Regions from separate parts of the Homo sapiens genome. Here region 1 is linked to region 2. A link means that fine-mapping ties the variant in region 2 to the expression of a gene that starts in the linked region. Tissue or cell type: whole blood. Region 2 holds a variant in brackets; the other region holds the start of a gene. All regions are shown on one strand. Distances are from middle to middle.

Region 1 (6,451 bases), 29 kb before region 2:
AGGTGCCCTGGGCCAGCTGGTGGCCCCATGTCATCACAAGGGGCCTTGACAGCAGATGAGGGAGGCAGGAGATCAGTGTCGGGGCCAACAGGGTGAGGACTCAACTGGCTTTGGCTGGCTTTCAGGTGTGGGATAGGCCACGAGACAAGGGGCTCAAGTGCTTCCAGAAACTGGAAAGGCCAGAACAGCTTCTCCCCTGGAGCTCCAAAAGCAATCGGCCCTGCAGACACCCTGATTTTGGCGGAGTGAGGCTGGGCTGGACTTCCGACCTACAGAACAGTTAGAGAATACATTTGCAGTTTTATTTATTTATTTTTTGAGACGGAGTCTTGCTCTGTTGCCTAGGCTGGAGTGCAGTGGCGCCATCTCGGCTCACTGCAAGCTCCGCTTCCTGGGTTCACGCCATTCTCCTGCCTCAGCCTCCCGAGTAGCTGGGACTACAGGCGCCTGCCACCACGCCAGGCTAATTTTTTGTATTTTTAGTAGAGAGGGGGTTTCACAGTGTTAGCCAGGATGGTCTCTATCTCCTGACCTCGTGATCTGCCCGCCTTGGCCTCACAAAGTGCTGGGATTATAGGCGTGAGCCACCGTGCCGGACACATTTGCATTTTTTAAAAAGAGACAGTTCTGGCCATGTTGGTCTCGAACTCCTGGCCTCAAGCAATCCTGCCTTGGCCTCCCAAAGTGCTAGGATTATGGGCGTGAGCCTCCGCACTCAGCCTAAATTTGCATTTTTAAGCGACTAAGTTTGAGATAATTTGTTATGCCAGCAGAAGAAAGCTAAGTTATCTTGGAGGTGATTTTTCTTTTTTTTTAGATGGAGTTTCTCTCTTGTTGCCCAGTTTGTCTCTTGGAGCCCCAGAGTGAAGGAGGCAGAACAGGCCCCAGGGCTCACCCCAGGCCGACCTCGGTGGGCTTGCGCAACACACAGGCATGATGTAGCCACCCTCCCATCCCCAGGCCCCCCTCAGCACTCCTCTTCGACTTTATTGACATTTATTTCCAAAACGTGACGATAGGCAAACTCAGATAAATGACACACATAGACCGCGTGAACCCTCTCATATTTACCAGATAATAAAATAGTAGCACTGACAAAGGCTCAATTTTTTTTTTTATTCTTCCCCAGAGACAGGCTCTGTTGCCCAGGCTGGTCTTGAACTCCTGGCCACAGGTGATCCTCCCACCTTTGTCTCCCAAAGTGTTGAGGTAAAAGGCATGAGCCACCGCACTCGGCCAATCTAATTTTTAAAAACACCTTTTCCTCACTGGCTGGAGCACGTTCTACTTTACTGGGAACTGAATGAATGTGCAACTCTAATTACAGCCCCTCCGAAGTGCAGTGGCTTGGGAACCTCCCGTTCCGGGAGGCGGCCTGCAGAGCCCTCCTCCTACAAGTGTGAGCACAGGGTCAGGGTTCCATCCAAGCGAGCACCTGCTTCCTATTTTCCGACTAATTTCGGTCCCCTGATACGGAATCCGGGATCCTGCAGACAGGCAGCGGGTGACAGCAAGCACAAGGGTGTTCGATGACACCTGGAGAGGTCAGGAGAGCCAGTCCTGCGGTGCAGAGGAAGAAACCCAGCACAGAGGCCAACAGAGCCAGCCCCAGCCTCTGCCAATAAAACATATAAATGAGCCCTGGGGGCTGGAGGAGGGCCACAGGATCCAAGCTGGCTGCCGGATCCGAGTGGGATCGGGGTGCCGACTGTGGGACATGGGTGGGATGGGGTGCCGGCTGCGGGACTCGGGTGGGATCGGGGTGCGGGCTATAGGACTGGGGCGGGATCGGGGTGTCATCTATGGGATCGAGGTGCTGGCTATGGGACTGGGGTGGGATCGGGGTGCTGGCTATGGGACTGGGGTGGGATCGGGGTATCAGCTATGCTATGCGATCGGGGTGAGTGCCGGCTGTGGGATCGGGGTGCCGGCTGCGGGACTGGGGTGGGATCGGGGTGCCGGCTGTGGGACAGCGGTGGGATCGGGGTGGGTGCCAGCTGTTGGGCTGGGGTGGGATCGGGGTGCCAGCTGCGGGACTGGGGTGGGATCGGGGTGCCGGCCGTGGGACAGCGGTGGGACCGGGGTGTTAGCTATGGGATTGGGGTGGGTGCCGGCTGTTGGGCAGGGGTGGGATCGGGGTGTCGGCTGTGGGACTGCGATAGGATCGGGGTGCTGGTTGTGGGACTGGGGTGACAGCTTGAGGGGTGACCGAGCCCTCCCGGCCGCTCCCGGATGCCCCTCGCCCTCCACGCTGGGAGCGCCGTGGCTGGCTGAGCCTCTGGCATGTTCCGCGTGAGTCCGCGCACCCTACAGCGTCCTCCTCCACAGCCTCGTGTTCAGGCGTCCGCCCCGCAGGGGAGTCCCCTCGCGCCCATTCACACACAGCAGCGTCCGGGCGAGGAGCGCCCGTACCTGGAGGCCTGAAGGTACCGCCCTGCCGCGCGTGGGCACTGCTCCCTGGCGCCGTCCGTCCACTGACCATCGTCCCTCGGCCCGGCCGCCCGCGCGGGGCAGGCAACGCCCGACCGGGGGCCTCGGGGACCAGGAGGAACCTGCGGCGTTAGGAGCTGACAGTGTCGGTCCGCGCACGCGCCCCGGGGCCCGTCGGGCCTTATTTCACGGCCCCGCCTTCCTCCTCCGCGAGCGCCAAATAAGTGTCCGGCCCTCCCAGCCCCGTGCGTGCGCGGCCCCGCCGCCTGCGTCACTAGGAAGCGCGCGCCCGCGCCGCCGCCGCCGCCGAATCCCCAACAAGGAGCGAAGCCCGCGGCCGCCGCCGCCGCCCGCCGCCGCCGCAGCTCCCGACGCCGCCGCCCCCGCCGGGTGCCTAAGCAGGCCCGGCGCGGCCCCAGGTAAGCGGCGCCGGCGAGCCCGCGGCCCCCCCGCGGCGAGGCCTCTCGCTCCGCTCACGCGCCGCCGTCCAGTCAGGGGTCCCTGCGGAGCGTCAGGACGTTACGGCGGGGGGAGGGGAGGGCCGGGGGAGGGGCGGCCGCGCGGGCGGCGGCGTCAGGCGCAACGGCGGCGTCAGGCGGGCGGCGCGGGCGGTGGCGGGCGCGGGCGGCGGCGCTTCCTGCCTCCATCTTGGCGCCGCGGGCGGGCGCGGGCTCGGCCTCCAGCGGCCTCCTCGGTGGACCCATCCCGGGGGGACCACGCCGCAGGGGTGCGACCCGCAGGGACCACCCCGCAGGCACCCGACCCGCAGGGACGCGACCCACAGGGACCACCCCGCAGGCACCCGACCCGCAGGGGCCACCACGCGACCCGCAGGGGCCACCCCACAGGGACGCGACCCACAGGGACCACCCCACAGGGACGCGACCCACAAGGACCACCCCGCAGGCACCCGACCCGCAGGGACGCGATCCCCAGGGGCCACCCCGCAGGCACCCGACCCGCAGGGACGCGATCCCCAGGGGCCACCCCGCAGGCACCCGACCCGCAGGGACGCGATTCCCAGGGGCCACCCCGCAGGCACCCGACCCGCAGGGACGCGACCCATAGGGACCACCCCGCAGGCACCCGACCCGCAGGGGCCACCCGGCAGGCACCCAACTCGCAGGGACGCGACCCGCAGGGATCACCCCACTGGGACCCACTCTCAGGGACCTGACCTGCAGGGACCACCCCACAGGGGCCCGCGTCACTGTAGGCTCACAGGCGGGACCTGGATCTGTGTAGACCCATGGTGGTGTGGACCCTGTTGGTCGGAGCTGATTTGTTGTGGGCCCGTCGTCAGTCATGGCATGTTATCTATTTGGTTACTGTGTAATTCATGCGTGACTGAAAAGTCGTGACTGACTTTTCTGTTGAACCAGAATTCTCTTTCTTTGCTAACACTTCAAATACAACAGTTTCAATTACATCAGTGTTGACCGTGCCGGTCAAGAATACTAGTTTAAAAATATTTTCTTGGGCCAGGTGTGATGGCTCACACCTGTAATCCCACCACTTTGGGAGCCCGACGTGGGCGGATCATGAGGTCAGGAGTTTGAGAGCAGCCTGGCTAACACGGTGAAACCCTGTCTCTACTAAAAATACAAAAGTTAGCCGGGCGTGGTGGTGTGCACTTGTAATCCCAGCTAGTTGGGAGGCTGAGGCAGGAGAATTGCTTGAACCCAGAAGGCAGAGGTTGCAGTGAGTGGAGATGGTGCCATTGCACTCCAGCCTGGGTGACGGAGCAAGATTGCGTCTCAAAAAAAAAAAAGTAAAATAAAATATTTTCTCATATCTGATTTACCTAATAATTTGGAAACTCACTTCACACTAGTGGGGAACCCAAGCCTTGGGATCAAAGCTGGGTGGGTCTTGGCTTCAACACAGAAGGGGCTGTGGAGAGGCCAGGTGTAGTGGCTCACACCTATAATCCCAGCACTATGGGAGGTCAAGGTGGGAGGATCACTGGAGGTCAGGAGTTCGAGACCAGCCTGGCCAACATGATGAAACCCCGTCTCTACCAAAAATGCAAAAATTAGCTAGGCGTGTTGGGTGCCTGTAGTCCCAGCTACTCGGGAGGCTGAGGCAGGAGAATCACTTCAACCCGGGAGGCGGAGGTTGCAGTGAGCCAAGATTTTGCCATTGCACTCCAGCCTGGGTGACAGAGCGAGACTCCATCTCAAAAAAACAAAGAAGGAGCTGTGGAGAGAGGAGGGGGTGCTCGCCCTTGGGAAGGCAATAGGGCGAGGTGCTCTATTCTATAGTGCTTCTTCTGTGTCTAAAGAGCATTGTATCAAGGACTTGCACTATTTTCTGTGAGGTAACTTTTGTGCATATTGCTTTGAACCTTTAATATAGTTGCCATTGGAGGCCAGGCTCAGTGGCTCACGCCTGTAATCCCAGCACTTTGGGAGGCAGAGGCGGGCGGATCACGAGGTCAGGAGATCGAGACTGTCCTGGCCAACATGGTGAAACCCCGTCTCTACTAAAAATACAAAAATTAGCCGGGCGTGGTGGTGGGCGCCTGTAATCCCAGCTACTCAGGAGGCTGAGGCAAGAGAATCGCTTGAACCCGGGAGGCAGAGCTTGCATTGAGCCGAGATCGGGCCACTGCAGTCCAACCTGGGCTACAGAGCGAGACTCCGTCTCAAAAAAAGAATATATGTATGTATGCAGTTGCCAATGGAGAGGCTGGAATTCAGTTTTGTGCGTGTACATTGCGTAATCCTCTGCAAAGCCCTGAAGCTGTGACGAGGACCCCTGCCTGCAGTGAGGCTGTTGCCTCTTTGCAGCTCTCTGCTTAAATGACTTTAGTTGCCCCTGCTGAGCTTACCCTTATGAAAGCAGCGTCTCCTCAGTGAGAGTTAAACCCCGAGAAGTCAGCACGGGAGATCAGTAGTATTTTAAATGAAATTTTTATTTTTTAATTTTAATTTTTTTTTTTTTGAGACAGAGTCTCGCTCTGTTGTCTAGGCTGGAGTGCAGTGGCACAATCTTGGCTCGCTGCAACCTCTGCCTCCGGAGTTCGAGAGATTCTCCTGCCTCAGCCTCCCAAGTAGGTGGGATTACAGGCACCCGCCACCATGCCCGGCCAATTTGTTTTTTTTTTTTTGTATTTTTAGTAGAGACAGGGTTTCATCATGGTGGCCAGGCTGGTCTTGAATTCCTGACCTCAGGTGATCCACCCGCCTCGGCCTTCCAAAGTGATGGGATTACAGGCGTGAGCCACCACGCCTGGCCAAATTTTTGAATTTTTTTTTTTTCTGAGACAGGGTCTTGCTCTGTCGCCCAGGCTGAAGTGTAGTGGTGCAGTCTTGGCACACTGCAGCCTCTGCCTCCCGGGTTCAAGCAGTTCTCTCACTTCAGCCTCCTGAGTAGCTGGGATTACATGGGCACACCACCACGCCCAGCTAATTTTTGTGTTTTCAGTAGAGACAAGGTTTTACCATGTTGGCCAGGCTGGTCTAACTCCTGACCTCAGGTGATCTGCTCGCCTCGGCCTCCCAAAGTGCTAGGATTATGGGCGTGAGCCACCACACCTGGCCTGAGTAAAATTTTAAAGTGGCTTTTTTTTTTTAAGAGAGAGTCTCACTCTGTCACCCAGGCTTGAGTGCAGTGGCATGATCTTGGCTCACTGCAACCTCTGCTGCCCAGGTTCAAGCGATTCTCCTGCCTCAGCCTCCCAAGTAGCTGAGATTACAGGCACCTGCCACCGCGCCCGGCTAATTTTTGTATTTTTAGTAGAGACGGGGTTTCACCGTATTGATCAGGCTGGTCTTTGAACTTCTGACCTTATGATCCACCCGCCGCGGCCTCCCAAAGTGCTGGGATTACAAGTGTGAGCCACCGCGCCCGGCCTAAAGTGGCTTTTTATTCATGTTTGTTTAAAGTTCTTTATTTTGAAGCCTAAGTCTACAACAACAAAGTTATGCTAGTGAAAACATTATATTTGAGAAATACGAAGTAATTCCGCCAGTGTAAACGAATTCATCATTGTAACTTTCCTGGCTAAAAAGCATCT
Region 2 (7,856 bases):
AATCGTTATATTTAATAATTTATTTTAAGAAATAAAAGAGGCCGGGTGCCATGGCTTAACACCTGCAATCCTGACACTTTGGGAGGCCGAGGCAGGAGGATTGCTTGAGCCCAGGAGTTCAAGAGCAGCCTGGGTAACATACTGAGACCCCAGTTTCTTCTTAAAAAAAAAAAAAAGAAAAGAGAGCATGAGTAAAGCATAAGTAGATTCTGCAGAAACACGACTAGAGATAGGATTGAAGTTCAACACTTAGTGGATAGGTCTTCAGCAGATTAGCCATAGCTGAAGAGAGAAGTAGGACTTGTAAATAGAAATAAAGCAATTTATTCAGGAAGCACGAGAGTCAAACACATCTATTTGAGTTCTGGAAGGAGGAGAGAGAGTCTGAGAACTTTCATAACTGAGAAAGAGTGGTCCACAGTGCAAGGGCCCTGACTGACCCCAGCCTGGATGAAGACCCCACTGCCTGCATGTAGGGTGGCTTTTAGCATCCAAATAAATAGTGATAGTCATGGGTCATCACTCGAGTAAAATAAAATCTATGAGTCTATATACCTATCTCCATATATTTCATGTTATTTATTTATGTTAAATAAATGCATAGAGAGAAGTAAAGCATGGGAGGAATGATGGGGTCAGAGTCATGAGCGGGTGCTCAGACTAGTTTCAGAGCATCCCTGTAAACCATGCAGCCATTGCAGACGTAAGTCGTAGCTGTGGTGGGAAAGCTGGCAGGTGCCTCCTTAACCCAGCGATCCATCTTCACATCATCAGGCTCGGGACAGACCTCCCCTTTGAGCCTCCTGATGCAGTGAGCAGGTCTGTGGTGTTCTTCCAACAGTTCATAGCCTGACTCTACTCATGAGAAAACAGCAGACACTCATGGAGAGACAGCCTACGTTAATACCTGACCCACAAGCTCCAAAAACGTCAAGGTGAAGAAAAACACAGACAGGCTGAGAAGCTGCTCCGTCTTTTTTTTTTTTTTTTTTTTTTGAGATGGAGTCTTCCTCTGTTGCCCAGACTGGAGTGCAATGGCGCGATCTTGGCTCACCGCAACCTCCGCTTCCTGGGTTCAAGTGATTCTCTTGCCTCAGCCTCCTGAGTAGCTGGGACTACGGGCACCCACCACCATGCCTGGCTGATTTTTGTATTTTTAGTAGAGATGGGGTTTTGCCATGTTGGCCAGGCTGAGCCCGAACTCCTGACCTCAGGTGACCTGCCCGCCTTGGCCTCCCAAAGTGCTGGGATTACAGGCGTGAGCCACCGCGCCCGGCCTGCTGCAGTCTTAATGGGGACAAAAGCCGAAGAGCAAGGCAGCTGCATGCTCCACAGTCTTGGGCTGGATCCTGCATCAGAAAAAAATGTAGGCTGGGCATGGTGACTCACGCCTGTAATCCCAGCACTTTGGGAGGCCGAGGCGGGTGAATCACCTGAGGTCAGGAGTTCGAGACCAGCGCAGCCAACATGGTGAAACCCCATCTCTGCGACAAATACAAAAAAATTGGCCAGGCATGGTGGCATGTGCCTGTACTCCCAGCTACTCGGGAGGCTGAGGCAAGAGAATCTCTTGAACCCGGGAGGCGGAGGTTGCAGTGAGCCCAAGATTGCACCAGTGCACTCCAGCCTGGACGACAGAGTGAGACTCCATCTCAAAAAAAAAAATTTTTTTTTTGCAATAAAGGCTATCATTGGAACAATTCATGAATTTGACTATGGACAATGGATTAGAGAATAATGTATGAATGATAATTTCCTGATGCGAGTTGTTCTGTGGCTGCGTAAGAGAAGCTTGTTCTTAGGAAATATACACAAGTGTTGAGGGCCCAGGGGCCCGACGTCTCTGCTTCACTCTCAGTAGCTGCACGTGCACAGGTCTAGGCGGGGGCAAGGGGGCAGACGGGAGCAGGCAGTGAGTCCGGAACGCACGTGTGAGAGCTCCCTGGACTATCCTGGCAATTACCCTGTGAGTTTGAAATTGTATTAGAATTAGAAGTTGGAAACACGAAAGAAATGTACCATAGGTGACATCATAATGAAATTCCAGAAGGACGGGGACAGAGAAGATCCTCAGTCTAGCCAGGAGGAGAGACGGATCGCTCAGTAGCAAGAATCCCGCCGGCCGTGAGCTCCCGAAAGCAGCGCAGGAGCAGAGGTGGCAGCGCCAGAGCCTCACTGTGTGGCGAGTGACGACACCGTGAGGTCGTCTTTGAAATTATGCTGGAAGAAAGACGTTTCCAGAAAAAGACACGAGTTTGCCACCAGCAGATCATGATGGAAGGATGTTCTAAATATGCATTGCAGGCGGAGATAGGAGGCCTCCAGATGGAAGCGCTGTGCTGTGAGGAGGTGTGAAGAGTCGGGGAAACGTGGGTCACCCGACCAGTCCTGTCTATTCAGCATCGAGAGAGACGCCCTGGAGGGCCTCAGAGATGAGAGCAGGGCCACGTGGCTGTGGTCTGGAGGGTCAGGAGCGGGCCGAGTTAGCTCCGGGGGGTCAGGAGCGGCCACGTTAGCTCCGGGGGGTCAGGAGCGGGCCGCGTTAGCGCTGGAGGGTCAGGAGCGGCTGCGTTAGCTCTGGGGGGTCAGGAGTGGCCGCGTTAGCTCTGGGCTCTGGCAGCTCTGGTAAGCGTGACATGCTGAAGCTCCTGGAGCCACTCATGAGAGTACAGCATGTAGCTTCCTAGCTGGGAGAGGAAAACCTGGGGTGAGAAGAGTAACAAAGGTGAAAGCAAGAAAGGAAAGAGGCAGGCCTAGGAGGGGCAGGGAGGTGAGGCTGGCTGAGCCCAGAGCCCTAGGTAGGATCAGGCCCTTTGGGTGCAGTTGAGTTTCCTAGGTGTGAGCCACGTTGGGTAGAAGTGATGGCCGGAAGCAGCCTCAGTCACAGCCAGTGCAGCCTTCCTGCCAGGCTCCGACAGTGGCCAGAGAATCTTCTGGATTCCACCTTCTGGACTTCTATGGGATCTCCCTGATCAGCCGCATGAGGGAGAGCCAGAGACTGGCTGGGCTTAGTGTTCCCGTCTGTGGCACAGGGGTCATGAGAGGGTGGGCTCAGGGATTGGGAACATCACTTCCTTCAGCAAGCTAGACTTGGGCACGGCCCGGGGGTGGAGGCGGCCCCCGTACTCGGGCCTCCTGGGTCCAGCTGCAGAGACCTCGTGACTCCTCCATCCCCAGCCTGCTTGTTTTCTAAGTAAATGCAGTTTTATTCCAGTTTTTGGTTTCAATAATTGCTTGTGTAACAAGATTGAACAGGATATTTTACCTTCTCAGTTTCTCTGAGCTCCCACATGGGTGAAATTAGCAAGCAGGAGGGTTCCCCTGGCTTAGAAACAGATGAGTGTGTGTGTGTGTGTGTGTGTGTGTGTGTCAGAGTGAGAGCAGGTGCCGGTGTTTGCTGCACGGGGCAAGGTGGTGTCAGGAGGGACCTGAGGAAGGTGGCGTTCACAGCTCCACCCATGTGCTGGCATCTGTTGCCATCTGCGATGTAACGTATGCAATAACGTGTATTTATAAAATACATTGCACAGAAGCAGTTTGCTTAGTCTGCCTGGAGGAAGAGAAGGCCACACACCTTCTACCTGGTGTGGTCAGCCCAGCCCTGTCTAGCCCCAGGCACACAGCAGCTCTGCCCCCTCAGGGCTGGAGGAGACACCACTCCCCACTGCAGCCACCGTGCCTGTGGGTCATGTCCTTGTTTTACCTGAATGCTCTGTAGGAGGCCTGCACCGGTCAGAGCCGTGCCGTGGCGCTTTTCCTGCCTTGCGCGCCTGACTCAGGGTCGGATGGGAGATGGGGGCACCCTATGTGGTGTCCCGGCCAAGCTTGACCCACATGACTGTGTCCCCCACAGTACGACGAGCATGTAATCAGCCCAAAGGAATTTGTGCACCTGGCCGGGAAGTCCACCCTGAAGGACTGGAAGAGAGCCATCCGCATGAACGGCATCATGCTCAGGTGGGCGCTGGCGCAGGGTCAGCCTCCCTGCTGGAAGGGGCCCTGGCAGCTCTTGCTTTCTTGTGGGGTTTTGGGATTTTGAAGATGAGGCGTATTTTAGATGTGGTGAGTGCTGACAACCTCCCGGGTGGCTGCTGCACCTGCTCACACCCAAAACTGTAAACCCGTCTCCCACACTCCTGCCAACAGGGACACTATCAGATTTTTAGAATTGTTTTGTCAGTCATTTTAATTTCCACCAATTCTTTACCTGAAGGCACTTGTGACTGTTTCAGCGTTGTAAAATAAAGGGTTGGCTGGGCACATGGCTCACACCTGCAATCCCAACACTTTAGGAGGCTGAGGCAGGAGGATCACTTGACGCCAAGAGTTTGAGACCAGCCTGGGCACAATAATGAGACCTCATCTCTACTAAAAATAAAAAAAAAATTATCTGGATTTGGTG[A/G]CATATGCCTGTGGTCCCAGCTGCTCGAGAGGCTAAGGTGGAAGGATCACTGGAGCCTGGAAGTCAAGGCTGCAGTGAGCTGTGATTGTGCCACTGCAATACAGCTTGGGTTACAGAGTGAGACTCTGTCTCAAAAAAAAAAAAAAACAAGAATAAAAAGGAAAAGAAAAGGGTCTGTTCCAATTATGCATTCTGAAAATAAAAAATAAAAGAAAGGTATAATCTGGTATTTGTGCATCAGATTTTGGCCTTTTATGTTACTCCTTATTTCTGTCCTTTCTTTCACTTTTTTTTTGAGAGGGAGTCTTGCTCTGTTGCCCAGGCTGGAGTGCAGTGGCATGATCTTGGCTCACTGCGAACTCTGCCTCCTGGGTTCAAGCGATTCTCTTCCTCACCCTCCCCAGTAGCTGGGTTTACAGGTGCTCGCCAGCACACCCGGCTAATTTTTGTATTTTTAGTAGAGACGGGATTTTGCCATATTGTCCAGGCTGGTCTCGAACACTTGACCTCAGGTGATTGACCTGCCTCAGCCTCCCAAAGTGCTGGGATTCCAGGCATGAGCCACCGTGCCCGGCCTTCACTTATCTGTGAATCATAAGCCTCAGTCTCAGTCTTTGTGGGCCTGGCCTCTACCTTGCTTCCCAAGGAGGGCCCCTGCTTTGTGCTGGAGTCAGAGTTTGAGACCTCACGAGTGACTAGCCCTGGGTCCTTTCCCATGGCTCAGGTCCTTTCCCTGTCCAGCTGAACTGGCCTCTGATTTTCTGGAACGTGGCTGGTGGCACAGCTGTGGGGACCACCGGCCAGGTAGGCAAGTCCTGAGCTGACCACAGAAGCATTAGCCTGTGTGTGCCTGAGGTCAGTGCTGCCCAAAGATTGAATGAGGCTGGAGCCTCTGACCCTCGTTTCATGGGTCGAGGCAGGCTCGTTGAGACACACAGGACTGAGACCCTGGACCTCCGGAGAGGCAGAAGAGAGGGCCCTGGGAGGGCGGCTCTCAGCAGTTTGGGCCGTACGAAGCCTTCCTGGTAAAGATGAGGATGAGCGGCAGCCATGGCCGTTGGTGCTGTCCTGCGCCCTCATCACTCTTCTTGGCTGTCTCTGTGCCTTTAGAAGGAGGAAGGTTCTCCTGGAAGTGATTTCCCACCTTCCTCTGCTTCAGAATGAGTCACGCATGATGCAGGTGGACTGGGCCCACCTTTGTTAGCTGTGGGTCACTCCCTTGGGGCTGGGGTAGTGGGACATCCCAGAAAGGCCCAGCCCCACAGACTCTGACGGGCACCTCCAGGACACCCACTGGCCAGCGCTTGCCCCCTTCCTGGGGACAGTGCCGTAGCGTGGGCCTGGGCCGGCTGCTTCTTCAGCAGCAGGGTCCTGCACGCCGAGCTCGCGCTAAGAGGGAAGTAGAGCCCACCCTGCCCTGTGGAGCTGCCAGCGCCTCTGCTAGGCCTGCCCCACGCAGGTGGATGGCCCAGGTCAGGGTGGGCGGGCCAGGTGCCTTCGGCTCTGGGGCCGACCTGGACGCTCCATGCCACTGTCTGTCACAGGAAGATCATGGACTCCGGGGAACTGGACTTCTACCAGCATGACAAGGTCTGCTCCAACACCTGCCGCAGCACAAAGATTGACCTCTCAGGAGCCCGTGTGTCCCTGAGCAGCCCCACGTCGGCCGAGTACATTCCCCTCACGCCCGCCGCAGCCGACGGTAGGTGCACAGGGCTGCTCGTCCTGACCCAGCCCCACCCTGGCCATGGCCACAGAGGGTGACATGCCCCTGGGTGGCCTCCTTGGCCCCAGGCGTTTGCTCACGCCAGGACTGCCGGTCTCCTGCCTGGGACCCTGAGTTGTCTGGGATCAGCCTCCTCCTGCCTCACAGAGGAGATCTGGCAGAATTGCTGCTTTCATTGACAAGGAAGATTGAAGCACTTTTCTTTTTAAGCCATTTTGGTTGTAATATAATAACTCACGTGTGGGGAAGGGTATAGCGAGTAACAGAGAGTGCCTGGGCGCCCACCCGGCCCCCTCCCTCCCACCCCCACGGCCCAGCCCCAAATCTGGACCCGCTTCCCTCCTGACCTGGCGGTTTACGGAACTGCGCGCCTGTGCTCCCGCCTTCCGTGCTGGGTGCCTTGCTGCAGGTATTCCTGCCACTTGGGTTTTTGGGTGACGCTTTAGATACTGTTCCACGTTGGTGTCTGTAGCTCTAAACTGTGGAGAGGTTGTTCCCTAGAATTCTTTCCAGCTTTATGAATAGAGAAATTTTTCTTAAAACTACAGTTAGGCTGGGTGTGGTGGCTCACACCTGTAACCCCAGCACTTTGGGAAGCCGAGGCGGGTGGATCACTTGAGGCCAGCCTGGCCAACAGGATGAAACCCTGTCTCTATTAAAAGTACAGAAGTTAGCCGGGTGTGGTGGTGCATGCCTGTAGTCCCAGCTACTCAGGAGGCTGAGGCAGGAGAATCGCTTGAACCCAGGAGGCGGAGGTTGCAGTGAGCTGAGATCGCTCCACTGCCCTCCAGCCTGGGCGACAGTGTGAGATTCCATCTCAAAACAAAAAAACTGAAGTTAAAGTGAAGTTAGGTCCTGGGCTCCCTGGTCACATCTCTGGGTGGTCTTTGGTGATGTGTTTCCAGCAATGCCACATGCATTGTCCCTAAGCTGCCACTCCGCATTGCTGGCCAGATTGTGTTCCTGTGTGCCCAGGGACGTCCTTGTTGTTGGCCCAGGTGGGACCCAGTTGAGTCCTGTCCTGTCCCGCTGGGTAGGAGAGTGAGGCCAGGGCACTAGGGAGGCCTCACCCTTCTCCTGGGCCCCCTTCCACGTCCTGCTGGGGCAGCCTGGCAGGTTCAGTGCTGAGTCCTGAGAAGCCCAGGACACTTGGGCTGCTGTGGTCAGAGGGGCTGGGTAGAGCCCAGCCTCCTGTCTGTCCTCCCCAGGGCCTCCCCAGCGGCTCCACCGCGTTAGTGTTGGCCCTGCCTGACCGCCTGCCAGGGAAGGAACTGGGCCTTCCACGCCCTGTAGTCAGTGCCTCACAGCTAGGCTGAGGCTCAGCTCTTCTGAAGATGATTTGGGTTCTTTAACCTGCAATCTCTGAGAACCATTGACTTGGCTACTGTGCAGTTAGTAAAAGATGCTGTGCCAGCCCCAACTCGGAAAAACGACTCATTCACGCCCCAAATAATTCCAGATGTGTAATATGAGTCATACTCACCACTGCCATGTCTTTGATGAATGTGGAAAAGGCCAGTATTCCCAAAACATTCAACTGCTTCCAGGTCGTTGGTGGTGGTGTTGGAGAAGGAGTCCTGCTCTGTCGCCCAGGCTGGAGTGCAGGGGCCTGATCTCGGCTCACTGCAACCTCTGCCTTCCGGGTTCTAGCGATTCTCCTGCCTCAGCCTCCCGAGTAGCTGGGATTACAGGCGCACGCCGCCACACCCGGTTGACTTTGTATTTTAG

The links. PIP is the estimated chance that this variant, and not a neighbour inherited with it, causes the effect.
Region 1: MHENCR starts here. The variant in region 2 is fine-mapped to the expression of MHENCR in whole blood (INTERVAL, PIP 0.93).

Annotation. Positions count from the first base shown.
Region 1 is chr20:63,623,354-63,629,804 of GRCh38, reverse strand. It overlaps MHENCR (melanoma highly expressed competing endogenous lncRNA for miR-425 and miR-489), which reads right to left and starts at 2,570. Exons shown (of 2, transcript NR_132417.1): 1 at 2,413-2,570; 2 at 981-1,615. It overlaps GMEB2 (glucocorticoid modulatory element binding protein 2), which reads left to right and starts at 2,704. Exons shown (of 10, transcript NM_012384.5): 1 at 2,704-2,849. RefSeq lists silencers at 2,263-2,712, 2,803-3,342.
Region 2 is chr20:63,593,858-63,601,713 of GRCh38, reverse strand. GMEB2 (glucocorticoid modulatory element binding protein 2) reads left to right here. Exons shown (of 10, transcript NM_012384.5): 5 at 3,854-3,957; 6 at 5,947-6,104. Among named protein-coding and RNA genes, the nearest start is that of HELZ2, 24 kb to the right of the region's middle. RefSeq lists an enhancer at 3,739-3,908. The variant A/G (reference allele first, on the strand shown) is at 4,403.